Linked DNA regions of Homo sapiens: regions 1, 2, 3, 4 and 5 are each reported to be linked to region 6. Evidence: microRNA targets listed by miRTarBase, many of them from high-throughput screens and not tested one by one. Region 6 holds a microRNA gene; each other region holds the end of a gene's coding sequence.
What was found. The annotated mature microRNA hsa-miR-511-3p reads AAUGUGUAGCAAAAGACAGA and lies in region 6 at 3,638-3,657, opposite strand. An mRNA with a match to its seed (bases 2 to 7 or 8) in the 3' UTR can be bound and repressed. Matches are read on the target gene's strand: a 7mer-m8 pairs with bases 2 to 8, a 7mer-A1 pairs with bases 2 to 7 and ends in A, and an 8mer does both.

Region 1: miRTarBase lists C12orf60 as a target of hsa-miR-511-3p. The part of its 3' UTR that is shown has no 7-base or 8-base seed match.
Region 2: the mRNA of SDK2 is a reported target of hsa-miR-511-3p. Seed matches in the 3' UTR shown: 7mer-A1 at 2,347-2,353 and 8mer at 2,352-2,359.
Region 3: the mRNA of GPBP1L1 is a reported target of hsa-miR-511-3p. Seed matches in the 3' UTR shown: 7mer-A1 at 4,226-4,232.
Region 4: the mRNA of LPP is a reported target of hsa-miR-511-3p. Seed matches in the 3' UTR shown: 7mer-A1 at 4,153-4,159 and 7mer-m8 at 4,112-4,118.
Region 5: miRTarBase lists CTSE as a target of hsa-miR-511-3p. Seed matches in the 3' UTR shown: 7mer-A1 at 594-600 and 7mer-A1 at 619-625.

The regions. Positions count from the first base shown.
Region 1 is chr12:14,823,208-14,828,278 of GRCh38, forward strand. C12orf60 (chromosome 12 open reading frame 60) reads left to right here. Exons shown (of 2, transcript NM_175874.4): 2 at 1-1,208. The coding sequence ends at 466. It overlaps ART4 (ADP-ribosyltransferase 4 (inactive) (Dombrock blood group)), which reads right to left. Exons shown (of 3, transcript NM_021071.4): 3 at 2,362-5,071. Among named protein-coding and RNA genes, the nearest start is that of SMCO3, 12 kb to the left of the region's middle.
Region 2 is chr17:73,334,330-73,339,404 of GRCh38, reverse strand. SDK2 (sidekick cell adhesion molecule 2) reads left to right here. Exons shown (of 45, transcript NM_001144952.2): 45 at 465-5,021. The coding sequence ends at 818. Among named protein-coding and RNA genes, the nearest start is that of CDC42EP4, 25 kb to the right of the region's middle. RefSeq lists an enhancer at 1,774-2,673.
Region 3 is chr1:45,623,780-45,628,854 of GRCh38, forward strand. GPBP1L1 (GC-rich promoter binding protein 1 like 1) reads right to left here. Exons shown (of 13, transcript NM_021639.5): 13 at 3,525-4,629. The coding sequence ends at 4,477. CCDC17 (coiled-coil domain containing 17) reads right to left here and starts at 275. Exons shown (of 13, transcript NM_001114938.3): 1 at 1-275. The coding sequence starts at 130.
Region 4 is chr3:188,873,692-188,878,766 of GRCh38, reverse strand. It overlaps LPP (LIM domain containing preferred translocation partner in lipoma), which reads right to left. Exons shown (of 12, transcript NM_001375462.1): 12 at 1-4,416. The coding sequence ends at 4,288. Among named protein-coding and RNA genes, the nearest start is that of TPRG1-AS1, 71 kb to the left of the region's middle.
Region 5 is chr1:206,005,539-206,010,613 of GRCh38, reverse strand. It overlaps CTSE (cathepsin E), which reads left to right. Exons shown (of 9, transcript NM_001910.4): 9 at 267-1,350. The coding sequence ends at 431. Among named protein-coding and RNA genes, the nearest start is that of RAB7B, 4.7 kb to the right of the region's middle.
Region 6 is chr10:17,843,742-17,848,816 of GRCh38, reverse strand. MIR511 (microRNA 511) reads right to left here and starts at 3,710; the gene lies at 3,624-3,710. It overlaps MRC1 (mannose receptor C-type 1), which reads right to left. Exons shown (of 30, transcript NM_002438.4): 6 at 3,382-3,528.

The DNA.
Region 1 (5,071 bases), not on the chromosome of region 6:
AATGGCCATGTGCTCTGTGGTTCAGAAGAGTACCAATGTAGAGGAGTTGCATCAGTCAGCTAAAGAAGTATTCAAAAGTGCCCATACGCCAGTCATCATCTCTGTGCTAAACAGCAGTAACATCCTTGGGAGTCTGGAATCTTCTCTTTCACACTTGATGAAATTCCCCATCATGAATCTTCAATTAAGTGACTTCTATACAGAAGACACCAAAGAGCAATCAGATGTCACCACATCTGAGAGAACCAGAAGTCCTCCAGGTTCTTCCAAAACCACTATGATAGACACCTTGAAAAAACTGCAGGATGTACTAAAAACTGAGGATTCCAAAAATCCCACAAAGTCAGCAGCAGATTTGTTGGAACAAATTGTCAAGGCTATGGGACCAATCTTAGAGATCCTCCAAAAAGCGATAAAGACTATGGAAATGAATATTTCTGTGTTTAAGAAAGCCAGTGACAAGTAGGGATGCAACAGAAATGTTCATTTCTGTCAGAAAACTACTTAAAATCTTATGGTTTTTCATAGTAGTTTCTAAGATCTTTTGGTGCCAAACATGTGCTATGTTAGAACATAAGTACACAAAAGTCATCTGGCAAAACATTTACCTGTAGTTTTGCTTTATTAAAATAAAAAGAAATAATTAAGAAAGCCTGTTTGAAATGTCAGTCACTAAGAAGAATATATTGTTGAAAAAAACAAAGTGGTATTACATTTGAGGATGTTTCTAAATATTGTGTTTCATCTTAAAGCATAATTAAAACAACCCTAAAGTAGTTCCCACTCTTAACTATTCTATTTCCAGTGAGAAATCCAGGTAAACTGTAAATATTATCATTAGATAGAAAATCTAGGCCTGGGAAACAAAATAAACTCCATTTTTGTCACTCATATACCAATTTCTATATACTTCAGTACCTTGACGATCAGAAGCCATCACTAAATATTTTAAATATGATTCATAAGTAAGTGAGAACAGTGAATGAGCAATAATAGACTTTTCTTGCTTATGTGAGTAAGACCAGAACAGATAGTTCATTCTCACTTGTCTCCTGAGGTCTTATGATTAGAAAATACTAGAGGTGGAAAAATGGAAGTACTCTAGCCTTTCACAAAGAAAAGACTTTCACAAGGAAAACACTTGCAGAAGTAGGATATCTGAGATGTGCTTTATTTAAAGAAATGAGATAGGGCAGTCTCTTTGTCTACCATAAGTCTTTGGTTCTCATGCATTGTAAATGAGTATGTACTCCTAAGATTGGTGTTGAAGTTAACTATTTCACATGATACCTGATAGAACTCTGTTGAGAATAGGAAAAGCAATAATAACTCCAAGCCAAAGCCATCATTGTAATTCCCATTGTCATTTAAAATAAGGAGTCCCTTCTCCATCCTCATATAATTTCAAAATGTTTGGTAGGGAGGGTCAAGTGGATTTTGACCATTACCAGAGCTTGGAGGTTCTGGAAAAAACGATGAGTTTCAATACATTAACTCTCATTTTCTCTCCACAGCAAAGCTGAAACCTTGCTTATTTGTAATAGGTTTCTATTAAGAACTCTATTATTTTGAAGAGGATGTTAAATTGATTCATTTGCTACCATACACATACACACACACACACACACACACACACAGAGGGTGAGAGAGAGGAGAAGGGAGACAGGACTCTCACTTTGCTACTTTTTCTGGACCTATATGTGTCTAGGGTTTCAATCTCCTTTTAGTTTTAGGATTATGTTTCAGAATGTTGGATGCAACAGCTAGGGGGATTCATATGGAAATGAATGAGACAAGGACCAAGAAAAGTCTTGGTGCATAGTCTTTCTGTGAGGTGACTGGAAGAATAGCTGGTGGCAGTTCACAGGAAGTCCTTGCCAGATGCCAATGGGAATGACAACCAGGGTGTTAGAGATGGGAAGTGCCCACTTCAATAAAGATGAGTGGTCTTCCAGTGCTGGTGGCTGTTGTTAGGCTGGTGATCACTTACAGTGTTTCACATTTTCCCACCACTGGGTACCACCAGTCTGACCACTCTAATGACATCATGTCTGCTGCTGCCTCCTGGCTTCTGGAAATACTGAGGAAAAGCTGTATTTTTTTCTCAAACCTATTACTCACATTTAATGTTTCTCTCAAATACTTTGGTTTTGGGTTCCTCTCATTTTCTCTAATATCCTTCAGTTTTTGAAGAACAAAGTGGGGTGTGTTTCTATACTATGCCTGGTCTCATTCCTCCTCTAGGCTGTGAGCATGGGATGGCCTAGCTGTTTGAATGAATCATCAGTAGGGAGGAAAAAGTGAACTGCCACACAACACAACACATGATCATTTACTATTAAAAAAAATGAAATACTATTATACTTGTAATTTTTTTTATTAGTTGCCAGTGTTTGCTGCATCTTGGTATTTCTGAAAGCACCTAATAAATGCTTGTTGAATTTTACCAAATCAAGAGCTAGTTCATTCAGTGTAAATCAATTTGATTCATATTATTAGACAACTCAGTACAAGAATCCTGATTCTTCTAGCAAAACAAACTTTACTGAAATTTTCTTTCATTGGATTTTTTTTAAAGTAAGAGTAAATAGAGAACTTCAGGATAATCTAATAGGCGTATTAAAGAGAACACCTTGTTATAAAAATAAAGTATTACATGGGTTGAGTGTTTTTACTTTTTAAATTTTTCCTGTTTCAATCAGCTTCTTCAGATTAAACAGTATATTTCTGTACACATCAAAAGGAGACATACATGTATTTGTTTAATAAAATTACTATAGGACATAAGTACTCCTTACAGCACAGTCTCTGTTAACAGTTGCATGAATTTACACATATTTGAGCATCCGCCTTATCTTTGGAAGATATCCCAGGCTAACAAATTTATCCCAGCAGAAATTACAGTGAAATTTCTAAAACTAGTCTCTTAGAGTTTCATAAACATGTAACTTAATCAATTTAAATCAATACTCTACAGATTCCTTGCTCAACAACTTTGGACTATAGGGAGAGACTGAGGGGATGTGAGCTATGTACATTTATCCTTAACCAAACTCATGAATCTACATAATTTTAAGAGAATAGTTTCTGTCTCCAGAGATTTGATCTGTAAAACAGCAGCAGGAGTTAGAACTAAGTTATCTTTTTTAGAAACTTGGCTATTCCCTTAAGGATCATAATTGTGTAAGTCACAGTGTTCTCAAATGTTGGTGTATAGCAGAATCATCTAGAGGACTTATTAAAACAGACTGTTCAATTTCTGTAGTCTGTAGTCTGGGATCAGGCCCTAAAATTCACATTTCTAATGAGTTCTTAAAGGATGCTATTGCTGCTTGTGCCTAGAGAGTCAACGCTTTAGGAGAATTGTCTTACTCAGAAAATTATGACTTCTCATGGAAATCAAATGCTTTTGGCTGACTTTTTAGCTTCACTGAGTGGCTTCCAATTTCCTCTCCAGCCCACATTACCCCTCACTCTCTGCCAGACCTATCTGCTCCCTGACCTTATGCTGTACATACATCGATCATTCCGTATTCGCTTCTATTTTCTGCTTTCCTCTAAGTAAAACATCATCTCTGATAGAAAGCTTTATCTAACCATAGGCCAGAGGAATCACATTTTTCTCTCAGCTCCAAGCATTTAATATTTGGCCTTGTTTTGGGCACTACGCACTTGGCACATACTCTTTCTTGTTTTTTTCTCCTTCTGCTCACCCCTTCTCCCAGCCTAGAGCCCTAACGGCTGGTTCAAATGCAGCCTCTTACTTAAAGCCTTCCGGGTGTCTCTTCTTGCCTCAGTTGGAAGAAATCTTTCTTTTGAATTGTTATGAACAGAAAACTTGATTTTTGCCTTTTTTTTTTTTGGCATTTCACTTGTGGCTTGCTTTATGTTCTTAATTTCTCCTAAGAGATTGTAAACTCATGAGAGATCTGGCCTAGTGTTCTTAACTTTTAATCCCCAAAGTGCTTTGTACACAGTATGGCTCAATACATGCATTTATATGGCACAGGAAAAATGTACTTAAGATGTTGGGTGGCTTTTACCAACATAGCATGTCATTACTGACTCATCGATGCTCACTGGAAAAGCTTGCTCCCAGAGCCATGTCCCCAGGACTCTCTACTAGGTAGCCACCAAACTGCCAAAGACCCTATCCTATGCAAGTCACATAAATTGTCTGTTTGTAGAAATTCTTTCTTTTTTTCTTTTTTTGAGATCGAGTCTCACTCTGTTGCCCAGGCTGGAGTGCAGTGGTGTGAACTTGGCTCACTGCACTACCTCCGCCTCCTGGGTTTAGGCAATTTTCCTGCCTCAGCCTCCCAAGTAGCTGGGATTACAGGTGCGTGCCACCATGCCTGGCTAATTTTTGTATTTGTAGTAGAGACGGGGTTTCACCATGCTGGCCAGGCTGGTCTTGAACTCCTGACCTCGTGATCCGTCCTCCTCGGCCTCCCAAAGTGCTGGGATTACAGGGGTGAGCCACCATGCCTGGCAGAAATTCTTTCCTTTATTGACTGTAGAGGCTACTGCAACTAGGTGACAGAGGTGATTTGGCCCTGTTAGTTTCAAATCCCAATTTAAAGAATGATAGTACAGAGATGCCTGAACTCCCTGCCAGGTAATTTTATGTAGCTTATTCCCCATTCCATTTCTTTGATCATGACACAGGCCATTCAGGAAGTCCTATGGAGAGTAAATAGATGGACCGATTTTCAGTTTTGCTGTTTCTTATCCAAATCTTAAAAGGGATAAGGAGCATGGACTTTCAAAATCCAAAATTATAGAGCTAGCCCTCATCTTTACTCCATTTAGCCTGATACCAGGGTCTTCAGTGATCGTGATCGGGTTAAATAATCCCTTATGTCGCTACCTAAATTACTACCTGAGGGAAGCGTTAGAGGACATTTCCAGCTATACAATTCAACAATTTATACTTCTTTGCATGTACTAGTTTACATGTAATGAGACCTCGCTATATTGCTGATATTTGTTTGTAATCAGTGTTTTTTTCTCTCATACTCTCTGTTAACCTTCACACATACCCTCATGTTTTCCTAATATTTAAATTTGC
Region 2 (5,075 bases), not on the chromosome of region 6:
TACCAAAAAAATTAGCCAGGCGTGGTGGCACATGTCTGTCATCCCAGCTACTCAGGAGGCTGAGGCAGGAGAATTGCTTGAACCAGGGAGTCAGAGGTTGGAGTGAGCCAAGATCATGCCAATGTACTCCAGCCTGGCAACAGCGAGATTCTGTCTCAAAAAAAAAAAACAAAAACAAAAACAAAAAAAAACTCAGGTCTTCTGATTCTATCAGGTATCTCCCAGCTCTGGGCCAACCCCATAGTAGATCCTTCCGGTTCCGGATCTGCTGTGAAGGAAGCAGCAGGCGGGCACAAACGGGCACCAGACCCCCTTGGCAGTGAGGGGGCTGGGAGGCCCACAGTCCAAGTCTTGAAAGAGGCAGAGCAGAGTTTTGAACCAGAATGCCCTGTGCCTTCCGGCCCCAACCACAATGGCCTGTCCCTACGGGGCCACTGACACACCCTGATTCTCTGTCCTCCCAGGGAAGTGACAGCGAGTACGAGGTCGACTCAAACCACCAGAAGGCCCACTCCTTTGTCAACCACTACATCAGTGACCCCACATACTACAACTCGTGGCGGCGACAGCAGAAGGGCATCTCGAGGGCACAGGCCTACAGCTACACGGAGAGCGACTCGGGTGAGCCAGACCACACCACCGTCACCAACAGCACCAGCACCCAGCAGGGCAGCCTCTTTCGGCCCAAGGCCAGTCGGACTCCAACGCCCCAGAACCCCCCTAACCCCCCAAGTCAGCAGAGCACCCTCTACCGTCCCCCCAGCAGCCTGGCCCCAGGCTCCCGGGCTCCCATAGCAGGATTTTCATCATTTGTTTGACATCAGAAGAGGAAAAAGCAGAAAGAGAAATGGCACCAAACTCCTCCTTCACCCCTCCTCTCACTGCCTGCCAGAAAACAAAAACACCAAGAAACCAAGTCAACTTTTCACCTCCTGAGTTTATTTTTCCAGAGATTCCAGGGCCAGCAAAGCCGGCGTTCAGAAGGAGGGAGAAAACCGTGAGAGGATGTGTGTGGCCAGCAGCTCTTCAGCTTTGAGATGGTGGGGTTCACTGCTCCCTTGGGAATTACACGGAGCTGGGGAAGTGGCTGTGTCACTGCTATGGACACGGAGTGGGGCGGGCATCTGGAGAGAGAGAGGGAGCGGAGGCTAAGGACTGGAGGCCGCCAGGCAGGCGTGGCCGAGGGAAGAAAAAGCTTCTGGATGTCCAGCCAGCTGCCCCCTTCCAGCCCCTCCAGGACCCCTGGACCCACTGCCGCTGCTCTCTGCAAAAAGAATGGGCATCCCGGAGGCCACGCCTATCTTCTCTCTCTGCTCCTCCTTCCCTCCATGCACCATCACTGTGGCTGGCAGGCATCGGACAGCCTCATCCAGACCCCCTGCCCTGTCTTGGCAACCTCTACTGCCCATCTCCCCTGCTCAACTTCTCCACCAAGCATTTGGTTTATTTAGAAAAAGGAAGAAAAACAAAAAACAAAAAACTAAAGGGTGAGAATTTGCTTAGCGCCTTCCTTGTTCCTGCATATTTTTTAAAATATTGAATCCAAGGAAGAGAGCCCAAGGGTAGGGGAGAAACCCCCCACAACTGACCCCTGCCTCCCTGTGCTGGAATTGACTTTCCTGAGCATGGACAAGGAAAGGTGAAGTCTGGGGAGCAGAGGTGTAAATAAGGCGACTGGCCTTGGCACTGTGGGATGATTAGGTTTAACGCATTGTGGGCAAGATAAGAATGACACTTTGACTGTTCTCTTTCTTCCAATCCAGGTTCCATCCGTCCTCTCTTTAAAGGGGTAGTCAGCTTCCCAAGGCTGGGGAGTGGGGCACAGCTGAGGGATCTCCCTCTGGGCAGACACGTCACTCTCCACTGGATAGATCCTCACCACACACACACACACACACACATCTCCCATGCACTTACAAGGAACAGGGTCTAGGGATCCTCTCCAGAACAAACTCATCTGGGCCCTCCTAGCCAGACAGCACACTCACTTTCAGATCTGTGTCCCTCTCACTGCCACCCGGCAGCCTCCTAAGCACAGAGGCACAGGAGCCCAGAGGGGTGGCCCAAGTCCCTGGTCCAGAGGCTGGAATACCCAGAGTTTGCTCAGTCAGCCTAGCACCCAGTTTACAGGCAAAAAGGCAAAGACACCCTAACCCCCAGTAACAGCTTCCAGGCTGGGCTCCGCCTGGCCAGGGCGGGGAGGGGAAGGGGCAGGTCAGGAAGCTCAGTCCAAAGTGGACCCAGCATTTGAATTGCACGCCCAGCAGGGGCAGGTCAGATGGGACCAAGTGACAAGAATAGCTGATGGGAGGGAATGCTTTTACACACACACACACACACACACACACACATACACATACACAATCTGCTCCAAGGAGTGTTCTGCAAAAAGCCACATCCAGTGGCCAGGATCTTCCCGTCCACTTGGTACTTACGGATGCCAGGGTTTAGGGAGAAGCCTTTCTATCTAACTCCATACATTGTCCAAGGCCCTCTGTGCCCTCAGCCAGCCCTGTAAGGCCAGCCCAACACCTGCCCCACCGCTGAGATGGGTGGCAGATGGCCCACAGGGGCCTGTCTGATTCAGCGTGAGCCCCTTCGTGGAGCAGGGCTCCCTCTGTGCACTGTGTACAGGCGCTGCTGGCCCTGCCCAAGAGATGATGCTCTGTTGGGGTGGGTGAGCAGAGTTCAAGGAAGCCCAAGTAGGAGATTTGGGAAACATGCCAAGGTAAGAGAGAGCCTGGACCACTCTCCTACAGCCCCAAGTCAGTCACTGTGCTAATGGTGACCGGGAAGGGAAGTCAGGGTCTGGGGCCCAAAGAACGGGCACACCCAGCCATGAGTTTTTCCTGAAGCACTTGACCCCTGGGAAATGTGAACGGGGAGATGCTGGAAGATGGCTCAGCAGACAGGCCAGCCCAGCTCCAGTGTCCAAAAAGCGGTTTCTCCAATAAGGAGGCCTGGGAAGGGAAGCACAATCTTCCCCAAAGGAGAACCAAGGGCTGAGGTTCTGCCCCTCCAGGAAGTAAGGTGCTCTCGGGGCCTCCTTGGACTTGTCTGGGGGCTGCAGTGGAGTCAGCTGGACACCTGCTCCACCCCTGCCACCTCCGCCCCCACCCTCTGCAGCATCTGGCATCTCCATGGCAGCACATCTGCAGCTGCCGGCCTGTGATCGTGCCGCACAGCTTTCTTTTCTTTCCTCTCATCTTTTTTTTTTTTTTTTTTTTAAATAACTTCATCCCTTTCCCTCTCTGCTGAGCATTTAACCATTTAAGGAAGTTCCCAGTTTGCATTAGGGAATTATTTAAGCCCAGCCCAGTGAGGGATTATTTGGGAGGAAGCAGGAGTGAGTAAAAACATTGTGTCTGTGTATATATTGCACATGAGGTCAATTTTCCTTTGCCTTTAATGAATCACCTGGTGCACTAAGATATTCCACCCCCCCACTCCCCACACGCTCATTCGCACCCATGCTGACACCTACGTGTACATGCGGGATGGTGCCCATGCACGCCTGTGCTTACACACATGCACACACAAATATGCACAGAACACACATCTGTATGTGTGTTAGCAAAGAGACTCCTGAACTCCCTCTGATGGCTGAAGCCATCTCTCCCCTGTGAGGCACAGGTGGCCTGGGTTGCTTGCACTTGGGGCGTGGCTGGGATCTATTGTCTGAGAGGGTGAGGACACCACGCAAATTTAGACAAGCCCATGAGATCAGGCTGGGCCCATGGTGAAAGTCCCACACTTAGTCAATACCCACTCATCTGGAATATTGTCTCCACAGCCCCAGCCACAGCTGGAAGCCCAGGCCTGCAGCTGTGGAACTCTAGATTTTTTCAGGACACGTCTCTTTGCCCTTGTTTACATATCTACTGGCACAGCCGAGGCTCCCAACCGTCCTCCCAGAAACCTGGCCACATTAGAAAGGGGTGGTGGGCCCTGCCCTTTGTAGAAAGAGTGGGACCCTTTCTGGCCTGTGATTTTCCGTGCCAGTGATGCCAGGGCCCCTGCCTGTGGGACTCCACCCAAAGCAGGTTCACACCAGGACACACCTGGCACCTTTGGCATTGCCTCCTTGTGCCCTAAGCAATCTCCCAGTGTTGCACCCAGGAGCCCATGCTGGGCACACCAGGGCTTTCCCCTTCCTGGCTGCGCCTCCAGAGTTGACGTCAGCTCCACACCCACACTGCCAAGACAAACCAAAAAGATGCTCTGGGCTCCAGAACCACCATCCTCCTAGGGCTCCAGAGAGTTTGCAAACCCAGGCTGCCTCCCCTTCTGTCCATCCCTCACCCCCCGGCCCCCAAAACTCCTACCCCCAAACCTGGCACTGCCGTGATTTAGAGGAAACAAGGACACAGCGGGGGCTGCCCCCACCTGGTGCACGCTGCCTCAAGGCCTTCTGTTGCTGCCCACGCCTCCCTGGGCAGTGCTTCTAAAGGTGCCAGAGCCTCACCACAGTGCCACTCTGGCTGGGCAGGGGCTTCCCTCAGCTTCCCAGAGTGCACATCTGAAGGTGCCTACCCTGGGTGAGGGGCTGGTGGGCAGGAAGGTAAAGGGGAGACCATCTGAGCAGCCGCCACCCGCTCCCCAGTGCCTCTGTATGGCCCTATCCAGGGACACCCATGGGCATGCGCACATGGCAATCCTGACCACCACCTGAGCACAGGTGCCCCCTCGGGACCACCCCCCTTCTCTTTGTTTCCATCAGAATAACCAAAAGCATTTAAACGTGTTACCTTTCTCCATCCATCTAGACTCCAGAAACAAAAATCAACACAAATCTTTATTTTTTGATTTAAAAGATATAACAAAAAATTATGGGGAGAGTATTCATTATGGCAGGTGTCTGTCTGTAAGAAAAAAATATATATCTCTATGTCATATAGCGTGTTAGCAGGTTTATTTTTTAAATGAAAGGTAAGAAAGAAATTGATTTGAAATATATACCACAAGAAGTCCCGTGTCCTGTCAAACTGTCAGTATTTTATAAATAAACTTTTTTTTTTGGAGATTTGAAGCAACATTCTTTTCCTTCCTGTTACATGAATGGGGTCACCTGTCCC
Region 3 (5,075 bases), not on the chromosome of region 6:
ATGTCATCTCTTGGGTCGGGTGGCCAATGCAGAAGCGCTGAGTATGGGTGGCTAACAGAGCTGAGGAGCGGAAAACCATGTCACAGGTCCCACAGGGCAGGAGCGCAGGCTCCCCAGAGTGGGAGTCCATGGGATGGGACCCGTTTCCTGAAACCAGCCAAGACCTGCAGAAGGGATCAAGGGCAGGGGAAAGGCAGAGGAGGATGAAAGAGACATAAAGCCAGAGGCAGAGAGGAAAGGCCGTGTCTATTAGGTCTGTGAGATCTTCAAGTTTGTTTGGGGAGAGCCTTAGCTCCCTGGACAGCAACCACAGGGCTGGGCAGGTCAGGAGAATGGGTGGGGAAACCTCGGCCGTTTGGGAGGAGCCACTGGCTTGAAAAAGTGTTACAAAGTCTGAACGTGGGCAAGTCTCTAATTGTAGCTTGGTTTCCCTGACTATTAATAAAGAGGAAAAAGCAGCTGCCTCCTAGACTAGGCTGGGCCCTTATCACTTACTACATCATTGGTCATTTAATAGCCTCTAAAAGGCAAGTGTCATCTTTTTCATTGCTGTACTCCCAAGTGGATGTAACAGTTTGTACCATTCTCCAATCCAGAGAACTACCTGGCAAAGGAGGCACTCTGACCTTTCCAGCATTCTGCCTGGAAACCATGTCGCACCAGGGATAGCAGTCTCCCTAACTCCCATTCCCTGATTCCTCATTTTTCAGCTGTAGACGAAGATAATCAGCACAGCCCAAGAAATGAAAGCTGTGGGCGAACAGAATGAATCTATCAGATGAGGGAATCAAGTCCAGAAAAAAACCCCTTCTCTCTCCCAAGATTGGCCAGAAGCCAGAAAGACCCTGAACTGTTGGTGAAATTCTTCACTCCACTCCCACTCCCAAAATATATGGAGGAGCTCTGAGGTGACCGCATATTTCTTAAGAAACCCTCTTTACTTTTTTTTTTTTCTTTTTGAGATGGAGTCTCGCTGTCGCCCAGGCCGAAGTGCAGTGGCGCGATCTCAGCTCACTGCAATGAGCTCTGCCTCCTGGGTTCACGCCATTCTCCTGCCTCAGCCTCCCAAGTAGCTGAGACTACAGGTGCCCACCACCACGCTTGGCTCATTTTTTGTATTTTTTAGTAGAGACGGGGTTTCACCATGTTAGCCAGGATGGTCTTGATCTCCTGACCTCGTGATCTGCCCGCCTTGGCCTCCCAAAGTGCTGGGATTACAGGCGTAAGGCACTGCGCCCGGCCAAGAAACACCCTTTTCTCTTCTTTTTTTGAGACAGTCTCGCTCTGTTGCCCAGGCTACAGTGCAATGGCACGATCTCGGCTCACTGCAAGCTCTGCCTCCCAGGTTGACACCATTCTCCTGCCTCAGCCTCCCCAGTAGCTGGGACTACAGGCACCTGCCACCACACCCGGCTTTTTTTTTTTTTTTTTTTTAGACGGAGTCTCGCTCTTTCGCCCAGGCCGAAGTGCAGTGGCACTATCTGGGCTCACTGCAAGCTCCGCCTTCCGGGTTCAAGCCATTCTCCTGCCTCAGCCTCCCGAGTAGCTGAGACTACAGGTGCCCACCACTGTGCCCGGCTAATTTTTTTTGTATTTTTAGTAGAGATGGGGTTTCACCGTGTCAGCCAGGATGGTCTTGATCTCCTGACCTTGTGATCCGCCCGCCTCGGCGTGCCAAAGTGCTGAGATTACAGGCGTGAGCCACTGCGCCCAGCCTTATGCCTGGCTAATTTTTTGTATTTTTAGTAGAGACGGGGTTTCACAGTGTTAGCCAGGATGGTCTCGATCTCCTGACCTCGTGATTCCCCCGCCTCGGCCTCCCAAAGTGCTGGGATTACAGGTGTGAGCCACCATGCCTGGCCGAAACTCCCTTTTCTAAACAAGACAGGGACTTAAGACATTTCCCTACTCAGTACCTAAAGCCAAGGTATGACCCACCAGCAGCAAGTTACAAAGTGTTCAAAGTATGTCATCTCAGTTCAGCTTAATTCCAACTGACATAAAGAGTACATTTTTAGAAATATGTTCTCAGAAAACAAGTAAATGGCAAAGCCCAAATCAAAACCTCCTTTTCAACAACTAAGTTTGTCCCAATTTTCAATGGTTAAGACTTTTGACTGGTTGACTTTACAATGGTGCAACAGTGATAGGCATTCAGTAGAAATACTACTACCATTTTTTTTTTTTTTCCCTCAAGAGACAGCTTGTAGTTCTCTAATCTCCTGCTCTAGGCCGAAGAGGCGGGAGCAGGACTGTCATCCAGGCTGGATTGTAGTGGTGCCATCATGGCTCACTGTAGCCCTGAACTGCCTTGGAATCAAGCAATCCTCCTGCCTTAGCCTCCCAAGAAGCTGGGACTACAAGTGTGTGCTACCACGTGGACCTGTCTATTTTGTTTCTGTTTTTGAGACAGAGTCTTGCTCTGTTGCCCAGGCTGGAGTGCAATGGTGCAGTATGGGCTCACTGCAACCTCTGCCTCCTGGGCTCAAGCAATTCTCCTGCCTCAGCCTCCTAAATAGTTAGGATTACAGGTGCTTGCTGCCATGCCTGGTTGTTTTTTTTTTTTTTTTTTTTTGAGACAGAGTCTCACTCTTTCTCCCAGGCTGGAGTGCAGTGGCGCTATCTCAGCTCACTGCAAGCTCTGCCTCCTGGGTTCACGCCAATCTCCTGCCTCAGCCTCCCGAGTAGCTGGGACTACAGGCGCCCGCCACCATGCCTGGCTAATTTTTTGTATTTTCAGTGGAGATGGGGTTTCACCATGTTAGCCAGGCTGGTCTCGAACTCCTGACCTCAGGTGATTCACCCGCTTCAGCCTCCCAAAGTGCTGGGATTACAGGCGTGAGCCACGCCTGGCTGGACCTGACCATTTTAATGTTTTTGTTTTTTATAGAGACAGGTCACTGTGTTGCCCAGGCTGGTCTTGAACCCCTGTCCTTTTCTTACATCACTGTCTATTCTCTCCCCTACTGGGCTGGGCACTCCTTGCATCCTCAGAGCCTTGCATAATGCCTGGGACATACAACACGGGCTTAGAAAGTATTTGTTGAATGGGCCGGGTGCGGTGGCTCACGCCTGTAATCCCAGAACTTTGGGAGGCCGAGGTGGGTGGATCACAAGATCAGGAGATCGAGACCATCCTGGCAAACACGGTGAAACCCCATCTCTACTAAAAATACAAAAAATGAGCCAGGCGTGGTGGCAGGCGCCTGTAGTCCCAGCTACTCAGGAGGCTGAGGCAGGAGAATGGTGGGAACCCGGGAGGCGGAGCTTACAGTGAGCTGAGATCGCTACTGCACTCCAGCCTGGGTGACACAGTGAGACTCCGTCTCAAAAAAAAAAAAAAAGTATTTGTTGAATGAAAAAACCTGCTTCCTTCACTAGCCATTCAGCTACCATCGTCCAACTCTCCCCCAACCCCCACTCCAAGTTCTTATTTAGTAGGAAAACAGAACAGACTTCCCTTAAAATACGTACACTGGTAAATACATGGGCACTAAAAAACAGTTTCAGGAAAAAAAAAAAACTTGGTTTCTGACTTTATTACTGGTAATTTATTGCACAGGTTTTTCTGCATCAAAAAAGTATCTGCTAAAATAGAGAAACAGTTGTGTCTGAATTCACATTTCCCCCCAACTTCTAAAAATATTTCCCCTAAAAAAGAATCCACTCATCTAATTTTAAAGAAAATATACTTCTTACACAAGACAATCCAAACTGATGCAAAATATTTATTCCAAGTTAGTTATTTTATGCAGTAGTTTCCCCCTCGAGACTTGTGATAACCACATCTTTTAAATCTGTAAATAATGTTATCAAAATAATCTTAATCTTTGAAATCTCACAAAAATTTATATTTTACAATCCACCCTGAATATCAAGGCTGCAAGAATAACACAACATTTCCTATATCCAAATATTTTACAGCTGTACCCAAAAAGGAAAAAGAAAAAAAAAACAAAAAAAAACAACCAAAAAAACCCACATATGCTTGGTTAAGGGCTAAAGTTACCCGAGCAGCCAAAAATAAAATAAAATATCCAAATTATTAGCATTAATTTAATACAATTATAACTTCAATAGTCACTTTGTCATTGACAATGATTGCTTGATCACAGGGGTGAGTGCCCCAAGGGCTGGTAGTAGAAGCTGTTGCTGCAGACCAGTGTCTCCTCTTCCCTGCACTGCCAGCTCCTACCTGTGCATCGCCCCATATATACTGGGTGTGTATGTGTGTGTGTGTGTGAGTGTGTTTAAAAAATCTGTCCCACCACACAAACTTCTCTCTATAAAGCAGATAACAGGGAAGAACAATAACAAAAGCAAAACAAGCCAATTGCTCTCTCTTTGGGATATGATTATTTCCCTTGTGAATGAAGTATTCAACAACATAAGAAAAGGAAAAGAACGATTTCTTTTGTATACTCCCTAAACACACAGAGTTTACTGGGTCAGATTTAACTGTGAGCATTTATATGCCTACTTCCAGGCATCGTCATCTGATGTTTCACTGCTACTGGTTTCGGTGTCTGAGTCCTCAAACTCTGCTTTGCAAGTGCTTCTCCAAGGGGAGAACAGACTGGAACTGCGGCTCTGCAAGAAGCCATTCTTTCCAAAGCCATTTCTTCTCAGCTATGGTTAGCATGGGAGAGAAAGAAAAAAGAAAAAAATATCAATGACTGTACTGACCCATAAGCCCTGGGAAAGGCCAGGCCTCAATTCAATTCTAGGTAGAATGTGGGGCGGGGGGTGCTTCTAAGAGACCCTCTGAGATCTCTTATACCAGTACTTTTCAAATTTTAATTTACGAGTCATCTACGCATCTTTCAAAAATGCAGATTCAGATTCAGAATGTCTGGGATGGGGCTTGAAAGTCCTTATTTCTTTTTATTTATTTATTTTTTTGAGACGGAATCTCGCTCTGTCACCCAGGCTAGAGTGCAATGGCACAATCTTGGCTCACTGCATCCTCCGCCTCCTGGGTTCAAGCGATTCTCCTGCCTCAGCCTCCCAAGTAGCTTGGATTACAGGCGCACACCACCACGCCTAGTTAATTTTTGTATTTTTAGTAGAGATGG
Region 4 (5,075 bases), not on the chromosome of region 6:
TTTTTTTACTTTTTTACTTTTTGGTGAGTATATTTTTGAGATTTGGTGGTTATCATTTACATCATTGACTCTTCAGTGGAATATTCATAGTAGTGTAAATAGATTCTTTGAAAATAAGGCACAAGTATATGTTGTTCTCTGATTGTCTCCCACGAGAGTGCACCAAACGAGCGATCCCAAGAAATGGACTTGAGGCACATTTTGCAGAGGTGTCTTTTTCAGTTTGCTGGTTTCCCACAGATGGCTAAAGCAGGGGTATGGAACATGCTGTCATATTTCATTCATAACACACATGTACTATAGCTCTAGGCAACAGATGGACAATCGCTTGTTTGAACTACAAATGTGAAATACTAAGGTAGAATAGCAATATTTCTAGAAATGTATATGAAAAAATAAAGCCTTTCCAAGCCAAGAGGAATGGTGAGAGGCTTTGAGGTTACATCAGTGTTTCCCTGATCTCCCTAGCAGCTGCCATAATTTCCCCAACACCCTTCAAAACTTGATAATGGAAGGATCAGGGGGCAGCCGACACAGATTTGACAAGAGAAGCCCAAACCATATCCAATAGAAATAACACTGTTATTCCTGGCTGGTTCACATTAATAGGATTTTTACTAACTAAAAAAATGGCTGGAAGTTGTGTTTTCAGAGTCCTGTCTATATTCCACTAACTCTCTACTATAGCCCCATGGAAAAAGCCCTCTCTTTCTTCCTCTGTACCCAAATATAAAATACTTGTTTAAATGTAGAGTTTCATATCCTTTAAACCTCACCATAAACATCTCTGTGGAATCTTTCATAGGGAACAATTATAGTGTTGATAAGTCCACCCCCTTAATCAGCACATACCCAGAAAAGTAATTTTGATCAGAGAAGTTGCTCCTACAGAAATAACAATGTGTTAATGACAAGAAAAAGAACCCACATCTTTGAGCTGCAGAGATGCCAGCATCTAACAACCTGATGCCTTATGCTGGGACACATGACTTATTTTTGAGTCGATTATTTATTTATTTGTTTTTTTAAACAAGCGCATGCCACCATGTCTGGCTAATTTGGTTTTTATTTTATTTTATTTTTTGTAGAGACAAGGTCTCACTATGTTGCCCAGGCTGGTGTCAAACTCCTGGCCTCAGGCAATCCTCCTGTCTCAGCCTCCCAAATTGCTGGGATTACAAGTGTGAGTCACCACACCTGGCCTTATTTTCGAGTTTTAAAGGCAATTTTCTTGGCCAGTGAGACTCCATGTTGAGTCAGTATGGTCTGGGGGTTGAAAAATTTAAGAAATCCTATTTTGATATGTTCTGCAGAGCCCATGATATAGTGGATTTTTTTCCTTTTCCATGTCTCTCTTGTTACACAGAATTACCAAATATTTATATTCCTGATACTTTTCAAAATCAGTATATTTTTACAAACTTTCTGTTATAGACTCTGATTTTTCTACTATTTATGTATTTAAACCACAACAATTATGATATTATATCAGCAGACAGTATGATTATAATCATTAAAGTAATACAATCTTTTTCTCTCTGTTGCAGGCAAAATTTCATGCAACTAAAAAAGAGTGACTTGGCATTGTTTAAATCAAATGATTAATAGAAAAGACAGTAATATAAATCATATATTTAAGAAACCCTAGAATAAAATATTGTAGGATCCTTTCCTTATTATACCTTGTGAAAGAAAAAAAAAACTCTAAATCTAAATGTTTCTACATATGTATGAGTGCACATTCATTATTATAAAAGAATAAGTCTATCTTAAAAAGAGATTTACTTTAAAAACCTTTGGTAAAGATACTCTGAGGTTATGTTATAAGAATGCATAATAAAGATTGTAAGCAAGCAGTATTCTGCTGACGATGCCACAGGGATGGGTCTGTGACAGCATTTTCTTACAGCTTTTCCTCTTGACATGTAAACATTCAGTTACACAAGGATTTAAATGTAATAAGCAAGTAGAATGTTACTGCATTTTATAGTATAAATATTCAATAAATTCTTCTTCTTTTGGCAAAATTAATAATAATATGACCACTTTAAGAGATACAATCTATCCCTCAATAAATTGGACTCTCTGCTTTGTCCTAAAGAGAATTTCTCCGAAAGTATTACATAAAAAGTTACTAAGTCAAAATTCAAGCCGATTACATTATCAGCCCTATTGTCAAATAGTCAGTGCTACTTGAGGTCATCAGCATGGTCTGGCTTCAATTTGGAAGACAGGAATTCAGAGACACAGTTGACATTGCCTCCCAAAACTAACATGCTGCCCCTAAGTGAATCTCATCATATTTCACATTATGAGAAATATACGATCAAAGATAAGAGAACTAGGGTAAGAAAAAGACAGTGGTCAAAGGAAGCTCTTAAAAGCTATAATTTTGGTGGTTCTAACACAAAACCGTTTAGTGACAAAAGCAAATGAGCCATACATTAAGGATGAGCTATAGTGACCATCGGCTTAAGAATTTCTAGTCACAAAAAAAGAATCACTTTTATGATCATTCCTATTCAAGTAAAATAAATTTAATTGGAATTCCTGAGGAATAGTTTGCAATTCAAAACACGTATCCATAATTTTTTATTTCAGTTCTGATGTTAAAATTAAAAACTAGAAAAAAAACTAGAAATCTGAACATCACTTCACAATAATGAAAAAGATATCTGTGGAATAAGGAAACGGTACATTGGAGGATGTAATTATACTTGTTATATTTGGTGTCTTAAACTGGGTATTAGGTATATAGGAATTCATTATATTATTATTTATACCTTTTTGTAGACTTAAAATACTCCATAATTTAAAAGTATATACTTGTGGGAGATTTGAAGAAAGATTTAAGAAATCTCAGTCCAAAATCCTTAGTTTACAAAATGGCAACTTGCCATGACTAAGCTAGGTGTCTCTCCTTAAGTGAAACATGTTCGAACTTAATAAGTATGGCTTGGCAGTTGGCAAGCAAGTGTTTCACTGGCTAATAAAAGTTTGAATAAAGATTCTAGGCAGAGATTCTGCATATTTTTAGCTCATAAAGACAATTTTTGTTTCAGTGATTGTCTTTGAAAGTGTGGTGTAAATGTCACATTGATGATATGAAAATGTCTCCTGCAATATGTAATTTCAGTTGCAGAAGGATTATGAGAATAATGAAACTGTGGTTTCAGAATCTTTTCAAGCTTTCTACTCTTTTGAAAGTAAACCAAACAAAACTGCACAGTTTTATTTTGTATGCTCTGATTTGCAATTGTCAGGCAAAATGGACCTGGTAATAAAAAAGAAAAAGAAGAGAATTTGAACGGTTTTTTCACAGCCTTCATCCTCTAGAGAAAAAGGCAATTTTGATAGTTGTGTTGGATATTAGAATAAACATGACAATATTTTTAAGATGAGAAGTGGGACAGTATTGAAAATGTTATCTTCTAGAAGAAATCAAGTTTGTCTGTATTACAATGTTCAGGTAGTGCGGAAAAGAAAAATCTTAAGGTAATATTGTGGGACAATAATGTTTTTTTAAACATAACCCCAAAATGCCTTTTCTAGCATATCCCACCTGTAATTTCTTTAGAAAAATATTGAAGCTTGGTTGTCTGTCACTACTTATTAGCTATGGGCCGATAACTCTTTTCCAATTAGCCTTGATCACTGGTCACTATAGATTCTGAATTCTGATGGTTGCAAATTAAATTTGGGCTTGTTCTAACTTATGTAATTTACAGCTTAAATTCTTTACAGCCTAACAAAAAAAAATTGTGCATTTCCCTCCCCAAGGACGTGAGTAGTATAAAGCAAGAGAAGAATATCCTCTTCAATACATGGGAAAAGAATGGCTACTCTTTACAGTCACAGGCAAAACGGAAATGATAGGATGGAGATTTCAAGCCTAAAAGCACCTGTGAGTTGGCAGACTCACCCAGGAAAAACTATGTGACAGCAAATACCACACTAAGAAAAGCCATTCAACCAGATGAAAAGTGAGACAAACATAGGGATTAAAAGTTACAGGAATGCAGAAGTGAATGGGATGGAGCATAATCTGTGCAAAAATGTGGAAGTCCTTGGGAACAAAGGCCCATCAAGATCCTACATGATTCAATGTGAAATGTGTATTTGGTAACAACTTTTAAAAAAAATCTCATAATTTATGTGTTTCTAAGGCAAGGTTAATAGCAGATGAAGAACAGAGACTATCGCGTAGTTTGATGGCCTTTACTCTAGTATTTCTTATCTTTTTCTTGTGTTCGTTCTTCTCAGTGCCGGCTGAACAGGTGACTGAATCTAAAGGTCAGTGCTCGCCTTGGCGGTCAACACCCTGATGCGGGCAGAGTTGCAGGTCTTGCAGAGGATGTGCCCATCCAAGGGGTAGCAGCCTTGGTTATCTCCTTCAGACAGGAGACCACCGCAATCCTAGAACAGTAAAGACAGATGGAAACGACATAAGTAAAAACGTTAAGTACACATGTGGAGAACATCATGATTGAGCTTTCTATTCAAGGCCTCCATAATGTGGCCACTTACTATCCTTCCTGCTTTACATTCTGCTAATCCCCTGTATCCTTTCTCCCAATATATAACATAGTATATCTTGAATGTAATTGAATTAGAGATTGGGGACATAAATATAAATGGACATAAATATAATCCTCCTAAGCTCACTTGATATGAAATACAGGTATAAGAAGAGAAGAGGCCACCCATCTTGGCTCCCATGTAGAAGTTTGCTGCCCCCACTCAACAAGAGAAAATAAGAATGTCCCTAACCACCGATGCATTTTTTACCCTTTACCATTAGTTTAAGGATCTCTCAAAATGCATGCACAGGTACAGGAATGGAATGTTTTGGCCATTTCTGGCCTAGAGCAAAGGTAGACTGATGTCTGCCAAGCAGAAGGGCCACCAGTGGGTTCGGTGTATTTACTTCAACTGCAGTAAGAAAATAAAATCCTAAAGTTTGTGGGGAGTAGTGGTTTGCTGTACTTTCTAAAGGAGACAGCATTGTGGAGAGCAAAGATTGCTAGTCCAGGGGACAGGCCTCCTGAGCACCACCCACAGTTTTGCTACAGTCT
Region 5 (5,075 bases), not on the chromosome of region 6:
GTATATAACAGATGAACAGTTCTCAAAATTGTAGAACATAGACCCCAGGCCCATAAGAATGGACTTGTGCAGACAAACACTTTATTAAGCAACCTAGGGTAGGGACATATGAAGCAGGAGGAAGAACCCACCGACCAAAATGGTGGAACCCACCAGCTGTCCAAGGCCACCCAGTGCCAGCCACCACCACCACACAGGCAGCCTCCAGGCAGTACTACTACCTTCTTCCCCCGTTTGTCATTTGCATCCTTCTTTCCAACCCACAGGACTTCGTGGATGGAATGCAGTTCTGCAGCAGTGGCTTTCAAGGACTTGACATCCACCCTCCAGCTGGGCCCCTCTGGATCCTGGGGGATGTCTTCATTCGACAGTTTTACTCAGTCTTTGACCGTGGGAATAACCGTGTGGGACTGGCCCCAGCAGTCCCCTAAGGAGGGGCCTTGTGTCTGTGCCTGCCTGTCTGACAGACCTTGAATATGTTAGGCTGGGGCATTCTTTACACCTACAAAAAGTTATTTTCCAGAGAATGTAGCTGTTTCCAGGGTTGCAACTTGAATTAAGACCAAACAGAACATGAGAATACACACACACACACACATATACACACACACACACTTCACACATACACACCACTCCCACCACCGTCATGATGGAGGAATTACGTTATACATTCATATTTTGTATTGATTTTTGATTATGAAAATCAAAAATTTTCACATTTGATTATGAAAATCTCCAAACATATGCACAAGCAGAGATCATGGTATAATAAATCCCTTTGCAACTCCACTCAGCCCTGACAACCCATCCACACACGGCCAGGCCTGTTTATCTACACTGCTGCCCACTCCTCTCTCCAGCTCCACATGCTGTACCTGGATCATTCTGAAGCAAATTCCGAGCATTACATCATTTTGTCCATAAATATTTCTAACATCCTTAAATATACAATCGGAATTCAAGCATCTCCCATTGTCCCACAAATGTTTGGCTGTTTTTGTAGTTGGATTGTTTGTATTAGGATTCAAGCAAGGCCCATATATTGCATTTATTTGAAATGTCTGTAAGTCTCTTTCCATCTACAGAGTTTAGCACATTTGAACGTTGCTGGTTGAAATCCCGAGGTGTCATTTGACATGGTTCTCTGAACTTATCTTTCCTATAAAATGGTAGTTAGATCTGGAGGTCTGATTTTGTGGCAAAAATACTTCCTAGGTGGTGCTGGGTACTTCTTGTTGCATCCTGTCAGGAGGCAGATAATGCTGGTGCCTCTCTATTGGTAATGTTAAGACTGCTGGGTGGGTTTGGAGTTCTTGGCTTTAATCATTCATTACAAAGTTCAGCATTTTACCTGATCGTTTCAGTGGTCATTGATGATCATTGCTGAGATCCACACTATAATTAGGGGCGGCAGAACAGGTGTTTTTCTAATTCTGCTATCCCTTTGGCATTTGTTAGTTGGAATTCTTCTATAAAAAACATAGGCTGGGTACAGTGGCTCACGCCTGTAATCCTAGCACTTTCGGAGGCCAAGGCAGGCAGATCACGAGGTCAAGAGATGGAGACTATCCTGGCCAACATGGTTAAACCCCTTCTCTACTAAAAGTACAAAAATTAGCCAGGCATGGTGGCACACGCCTGTAGTCCCAGCTACCCAGGAAGCTGAGGCAGGAGAATCGCTTGAACCCAGGAGACAGAGGCTGCAGTGAGCCAAGATCACGCCACTGCACTCCAGCCTGGCAACAGAGCGAGACTCCTTCTCAAAATAAAAAAAATAATAATAATCTTTGGCTGGGCACGATGGCTCACGTCTGTCCCAGCACTCTGGGAAGCCAAGGAAGGAGGATTGCTTGAGCCCAGGGTGTCAAAGTTGCAGTGATCTATGACCTTGCCACTGTACTCCAATCTGGGTGATAGAGCAAGACCTTGTCTTGAAAACAAGATAAAACAAGATAAAACCTTTCCCTCATCAACCATTTGCCCAGGAAAGAAGACAATTACTTGGGGTTTTGTTTCCTTTGTTTACCAGTTTTCAGAATGAGTTGGTACTATATTAAACACCAAAGAATTTTAAACATATTTGATGTGTTTCAACTCACCAATTTTTTCTTTAATGCCAAATCACCCTATCTTTAGCCAGTGGGTGACCTTCAAATTAGTTCCTGTGAACTTTTCCAGCCCATCTTGCACACTTCCAGTCCCATATGTGGCATCAGCCATTGTTCCACAGAGTCCTGGTTCCTCAGTGGCCTCGGGTAATGATGTCATGTCCCTAAGACACTCACCTCTCAGAGCTGTTGGGAAGAATCAATGATCTTACCTGGGTGGAAGCACCTGGCTAAGAGTGGTAACTTCCCTTCTGATTTGGGTGTCATGCTCAGAGTAGATCACAACTACACATCTGCACACATACATTTTTTGTTTGGTTTTTACTTTTATTTTTCCTTTTTGAGGAAATTATTGCTTTTAAAGTCAATTTAGAACAGCCTGATACAAACGAGCTATGAAAGCAGTGTAGTAGAACAGTTAACAACACTGGCTCCGGAGTCAGGCAGGCTTGGATTTCATTCCTAGCATCAGTTGTGGGACTTCTGCACCTCAGTTTGTTCATCTGTCAAATGGACATCATAATAGGAACTACAGTTGACCCCTGAACAACACAGGTTTGGACTTGCATGATTTCACTTATTCACAGATTTTATTTTTTCAACCAAAGGCAGATCAAAAATATAGCATTCAGCCAGTGCTGTGGCTCACACCTGTAATCCCAGCACTTTGGGAGGCTGAGGTGGGTGGATCACTTGAGGTCAGGAGTTCGAGACCAGCCCGGTCAACATGGTGAAACCCCATCTCTACTAAAAATACAAAAATTACCCGGGCATAGTGGCAGGCGCCTGTAATCCCAGCTATTCGGGAGGATGAGGCAGGAGAATTGCTTGAACCCAGGGGGTGGAGGTTGCAGTGAGCCAAGATCGTGCCACTGCACTCCAGCCTCAGCGACAGAGACTCCATCTCAAAAAAAAAAAAAAAATACAGTATTCTCGGGATGCAAAACCCATGTATGTGGAGGATGGACTTATCCTATATGTGGGTTCTTCGGGGCCAACCGCAGGACTTGGGTGTGCTCAAATTTTAATATACTTGGGGGTCCTGAAAGCAGTTCCCCACATACACCAAGGGACGACTGTGCTGCATGGGGTTATTGTGAGGATGCAATGACATTGCACATACGTAAACATTTACCTAGCTTACATGCCTGTGCTCATCAGGCCACAGACCTTCACTCTGCATAGGCGAGTCTCATAAAAGGCAGAAAGCCCTACAGTAAATGGCTTTATGATTTTTCATCTAAGACAAAGCACCCCAAGAGCCATGTGGGAGCCCATTGTCAGACAGCACCCCTGAGGGTTTTCGGAAGGGCCGTTTCTGTGCAAGGGCTGCCCTGGCTGTTGAATGTGCTGGTCTGGTGCTGGCCAGGAGTCTGAGTAGTGGAGGCTGCAGTGTGAAAGTGATGCCTAAGCCACACAACATCATTCAGTCTTCACAACGACCCTGCTGGTTCTGCCACAGAAATCCTTCTGTGATCTGTTTCCTTGTCCCCACCCTCCAGTCATTACCTTTCACCAGAAATATTCCAGGAACATCCTGACAGTGATTCTGTCTCTTGCCCTCCGACAAACCAGTGCCTGATCGGTAAATATTTCTGAAGCCCAGCTCTAATCACACCCTTCCCCTGATGTACACTTCGCAATGGTGCCCCGCTGCACGCCAGATGCAATCCAAGCTGATGCAACTTCCAGGGTTCCCAGGGCTTTGCCTCAGTTTGACCACTTGTTCTCCCTGGACATCTAGTCTACCCTGCACCAAACGGAATCATCCCGATTTTCTTACTTGTACACTTAGTCCTAGGATTCCATCTCCTCTGTTCATCAGAGGAACATGCCGTTTCCCCAAAATGACTCCCTTTCAATGAGTGTTAAGATGACAGTGAAAAGCTGTCAGACACAGTGCTGTGAGACACTAGACTGAAATCTCAGCCCATGGGATGCACTGTGAAGGTGCTCAGCTATGACTTGGAGCCCTTCCCGTACACTCTGTCTTCTGCCAGCCAGAGGTTCAGCATCTCCTCTCCCTGGCCCCACATCGTTTCTCTGCATATTGAGCCTGACTTCCTGCTCCATTCACCACACATCTGCACAATCCTATCCTCAGCATCCTTCAAGCTCCAATTCAAGTGCCTCCTTTCCATAAAGCCCTCTTCGACTTCTCCTAACTAGAACTAATCTCTCCTTCCTCTAAATCCCCACAACCCTTAAGCTGTGTTTCTTATGCCATTATTTGCTCCATGTTTTATTTCCACTGAAAAAATGCAATTCTCCATTTCTGCACCCTTGAAAGGGTCTGAAAGGCTCAGATCATTGAATGAACACCTACAGGAGGAAAGGAAGGAAGCAGTGAGGATGAATACAGCGTCAGGGCCTCCTCTGCAGGGTCGAAGCTGGCGTCATTCTCCTCTGGAGCATGTGTCACAGGAACAGAAGGGAAATTGCTGACTTTTCATCCACGTGGCTGGAGGAAGTGGGGACTAGAGTCTGAGGGTGGCTGACGACTTGGCTTCCAAAGGTGTTGGGATAGTTCTGCAAATAGACCCTGAAAGTACCAGTTTCAGTCCCATGTGCAAAGGCTGTAAGGACCAGCATGGACAGTTCACTTCCCATTCCCAAAGCACCCTCGGCAGCAGTGGGCCCCACAAGAACGCTCACATCTTCTCTAAAAGAGGATCAAATGTGCCTCTACGCCCCTGTGGGGGCTTGCTGTCTAATCCCTTCTCTCTCTCTCTCTCTCGCACGTGCACACACACACACACACACAAGTGTTCACTTAAAACTTGGCCTCAGAAAAAAGTAGAAGACTATGGGAGGAAATTCTAAAGGGCAACAATTTAAGAACAAGTCAGTCATCAAAAATTAGTGGTTGGCCTGAGGGTGGCCTGATGCCCGCTTTCCCAAGTCACCCAGGTGGAATATTTGGGGTGAATGTGCTCTAGGGTGGAGGTTTTCCAGCTTCAGTGTGTG
Region 6 (5,075 bases):
GTTGCTACCCAAAACTGACACGTGCTTGTGACTAGGAGAGGGATCTGGAGTCATAACTCCTAAAACCTGAATTTGCGGTAAGTTGTGTGATCTTCGGCAAGTCACATCACATGAAAAGGAGTACCCATATAGGTGAAAATTTTTAAATGAGATTAGTACTAACACTAATATCAAACCACCCACCCCATGTTCTTCTGAACTAGAAAAGAATAGAGAGAGTGTGCTTGTAAATCACAAGCACCACACAATCATTATTTAATTAAACCAGCTGTCAACATCCTCAGCCTCGCTACTAATAGGATCAAATTGTATAATCTTGATTATACGCTGCAAAAATTTAATAGTAATGAGCTAGGGGAAAGTGACAATAAAGACATTTGAAGGCAGATGTTTATTCATCCCTATTGCCTTGAGCCTGGCACAGGGCCTGGTACATATAAGCGTATTGAGTATTGGAAGAGAAAAAGAATTGAAGTTATAGTTGATATATGGCTGCTTGTTATTACTATTCTAGAGATACTATTTCAAACAGTAATTTGGCAACATGTTTTGCTTAGAAGGGGACTATATTGCCAAATGAAAGTGAACGTATATATTATTTAAGCTCATATTAAATGTTTTCAAATGGCTGTCTTAGTATATGTTCGTTATAGGGTACCTTTCTTCACTATTCCTTTGATGAATTGGTCGTATCTTCCCTTAAAGGTGGAGAGTATCTGAAACATCATTGTTTAAGCCCAGGATTTTGTGCCCTGCAGTCATACAAGTAACTACTCAGTCATGAGGCTCAAATGCTGTACAATTGTAATAAAAAATGCATATTTAAAAAAATTCTATTCCCTCAATACAATTTAGATTCTGTGCACTTCCAGTGGTTACAAAAAAAAAAAGAAGAAAAAGAAAAAGAAAGCAAGCTTAGTACAGCTTTGGAGCCCTCTGGTGGGTTATTTTAATTTTGCTACCTAGGAAATTGAAAATAGTATCAGCCAATGCTGTCCTTCAAAAACTGAAATGATGAACTTTAAACATATTTGAAAGCATGAAAACAACCAACTTGAGTGAAATGAAGGGGAGTTCCCTGGGGCAGCCACAGAAGATGATTTGTTCCTCTAGCCACAGCTCATGTGCTCAGTGGCCACATGCGGTTAAGTGGCTGCTAAGCCAGAGAGTACAGCCCTAGAGACCTGAGGATTATGGACAAACGGGTTAGTGTTACAATAATTCACAGGGTTTGAGGTTGAATTCTTGCCTAAGGCTGTTGCTAATCCCGTATGCTGCATAATTTGAACTCTGATACGCTTTTCCAAGCTCTGGTTTATTTGAGTTTATAGATAAAACAGAATCATTAATCCAGGGAGTATAGAGATGTTCAGAAACTGACATCAAGTGGTTAGCGAGTGAAGAAGGCATCATGGAGGAATAAGAATGTACTGAGTGTTTGATGAAATGAACAAAATTTTATCTCAGGAAGAAGAGTCATGAACATTTCCATTTTACACATGAGGATCCCAGCACCGGCAGGTTAAGCAGTAAGGCCAAGTTACAGAATTCTGAGTGCTGTACCAGAGAAACTATAAAGTAACTATTCTCCTCTTTGGCAACATGGAAATTCCAAGTCTTAGAAAGAGAATTGTAATGAAGGCTTCCAAAAAAGGAAAAAATACACTATTTCTCCTAGAGGAGGAATAGTAGAGGTAAAATGCAAAAATGGTGAGCTTTCTCTAAAGATACCCACCGTCACTATGGAGAGCCTGTAAAGGATAATCAAACCCAACATCCAGGTCCCGCATCTATATCTATTTAGGATCTTGGCCAAATCTATATCAATTAAAATTGCAAACACATCTCCTCCCTAATCCAACAATTCCACTTCCAGGAATGATCACATGCATGAAATGATGTGCATAGAATGTATATAGTTATTTACCTCAGGACTGTTTGTATTAATAAAAGATTGGAAGTAAATTAAATTAAAAATCCATTACACAGGAGATCGGTCAAAAAAATATATGTGCTGTCTCTGCAATAGCTTTTGGACAGCCATAAAATTAAACATAGAAGCTGTTTATATTCTACGTGGAATGATGTCCAAAATTGTTGTTAAGTGGAAAACTTAGGATAAAAACATATTATAGTATACTGCCATTTGTATGAAACAAAAATAATTATAAATATATTTGTTTATATAGTCACAGAATAACTAAGGATACACACCCAGAAACAATTATTCTCCAGGAAGGTAAACTGGGTGTTACAGGTGAGAGGTAGGGAAAACCTTATTATTTATCATGTTGTATCTTTTGAATCTCTAGCTATGTCAAGCGTATTTTAAAATACATGAAATTGCTTTCAAAGCCAATGGGAAGAAAAAAACAAGAATGCCACATTGTCAGTTTCCTCCAGCAGAAAAACAGAAATAAATTAAACCATTTAAAGCATTCGCTGTCCCTCCAAAAAGAGGTAATAATAAAAAATATGTAGTTTGTCTTTCATCAATTGGAAGAAAGAATTCTTGCCTTAGTAGTTTATTCTCCTATAAAATTGTAAGGGACAACACAATTGATTTTTTTTTTTCTTGAAGTCTAGCCGATATTTAAAATTCAGTTACAGGCCAGGCACGGTGGCTCATGCCTGTAATCCCAGCACTTTGGGAGGCTGAGGTGGGTAGATCACCCAAGGTCAGGAGTTCAAGACAAGCCTGGCCAACACAGCGAAACACCATCTCTGCTAAAAATACAAAAATTAGCTGGGCGTGATGGCACACATCTGTAATCCCAACTACTCGGGAGGCTGAGGCAGGAGAATCACGAACCCAGGAGGCGAAGTTTGCAGTGAGCTGAGATCGCGCCATTGTACTCCAGCCTGGGTGACAGAATGAGACTCTGTCTCAATAAATAAATAAAATTCAGTTACAACTTTTTAGATATTTTATTCTATTTTATGAAAACTTTAGTATAAGACGCTACACTGAATAGCAAGGAAGCCCAGATAGAGCCGTGAGGACCTAATATAAACATCCCTTCCAAATGTTGACTTTCTAGCTTGGATTCCGGTTTTGCCATGTCTGCAAGGTTTCTGTATCCTCTGAATATCTTTTTCCTCAACTATAGCATGTGAATCATGACACCTACCTCAGAGGACTGATTGGGAAGGTAACATTTTTATTTAGGTCAGAGGATCTCCACAATGCCCAGACACCGCCGCACACTCAGGAAATACTAGCAACCAGCACACAGAAATATTGCAGTAATATCATTAAGTTTACCCCATCAACTATCCACAAAACCTCTGGCGGCATTCCAACAGTTACACCTAAGCTGTAATGTTACTTATCTTTCAATTCTAATAGTTGAGGCACTTCAGATCCCATAGATCACTTACCTGAGGGAATAACAAAAGAATTTAAAGTGGTGTTGCCCTTTTTGCAAATATAGCCCAGTTTCTGAACACATTCCAGATTTTCCCATTTAGCATTTTTTCCAGGATTTAGTGACACACAGCTTTTTCCAGGTTCAGCTGATGGACTTCCTTCGAGGAAAAGGAAAAGTTAAAGTGGACTATTATAGCTATTCCCAGCAGATAGCATCCCTCCCACGTCTCCTCATGTCTTCATCCTGGGGATTCAATGGACCACCATTCTGTCTTTTGCTACACATTCACAAAAAAATATTTACTGACTGCAGAGCAAAAGACACGATGGGTGTCTATTGTTTTCTTATCGTTGGATCATTCCAATACTTAGAATGTTGATAAAGCAAATATACTTCTTTGAAACAACCCTTTCCCCCATTATCAGCTAATAAAGCTACACCTTAAAACTTGAACAGTTGTCACAACGGATTACATTATCAAAGAGAGGTACCTAATGAAAAGAATGCATGATTATGCCGCCATAAAAAAAAATGAAATCATCATGTCCTTTGCAGCAACATGGATGCAACTAGAGGCCATTATCCTAAGCGAATTAATGCAGAACAGAAAGCCAAATAGCCATGTTCTCACTTCTAAGTGGGAGCTAAATACCGAGTACTCATGGACACAAAGATGGCAACAACAGAAACTGGGGACTATGAGATGGGGGAGGAATGGAGGGTAACAAAGTTTGGAAAACTAGCTACTGGGTTCTATGCTCACTGCCTGGTTGATGGGATGGATCATTTATATCCCAAACCTCAGCAACATGCAATTTACCTAGGTATGTAACAACCGTGTACATGTATCTCTGAATCTACAAGTAGAATTTATTAAAAAGAAAGAATACATGATGTTCCAAACCTGCCACACTAAACATTATTAGGGCAGGGCACGGTGGCTCACGCCTGTAATCCCAGCACTTTGGGAGGCTGAGGCGGATGGATCAACTGAGGTCAGGAATTCGAGATCAGCCTGGCCAACATAATGAAACCCCATTTCTACTAAAAATACAAAAAAATCGGCCGGGGAGCTGGCGGGCACCTGTAATCCCAGCTACTTGGGAGGCTGAGGCAGGAGAATTGCTTGAACCTGGGAGGCAGAGGTTGCAGTGAGTGGAGATCACACCACTGCACTCCAGCCGGGGTGACAGAGTGAGACTCTGTCTCAAAAATAAAAATAAAAATAAATGGAGGAGAAAAAGCTAATGGGAGAGCTAGATGGGCAGCATGCTGTGCTCCCAGAACTAAAACTGTCTCAATATCTTCAACTCAGCCTACTGAAGAAGACTTTCAGCAGCTATGCCTTATCCATTTCTTAGTGGAAACTGATTAAAGAACCAGATAAAGTCAACGTTGCTAAAGGGATGAATGTAGGCATTGATACATTTCACATGCGTTTTGCTACTCTAATATATGATTTAAAAACCAGTACTCCCCAAACTAGCTTCACCTTCCACCTGAAGACAGGGTGAATGAGCCACATTCTGTTAATACCTATGCTTTGTGACCTCCAATGTGTATGTAACCTGTGCCTGAATGTCACTTCCTTTCCTGCAAGACGGAAATCATATTACCTGCTCCACAAAGTCTGGAGCAGGTAATAACCTAAATAACCTTTTTAAAGTTTTGGTGGTATTCTTTGTGTGGTAATTAAATGATTTT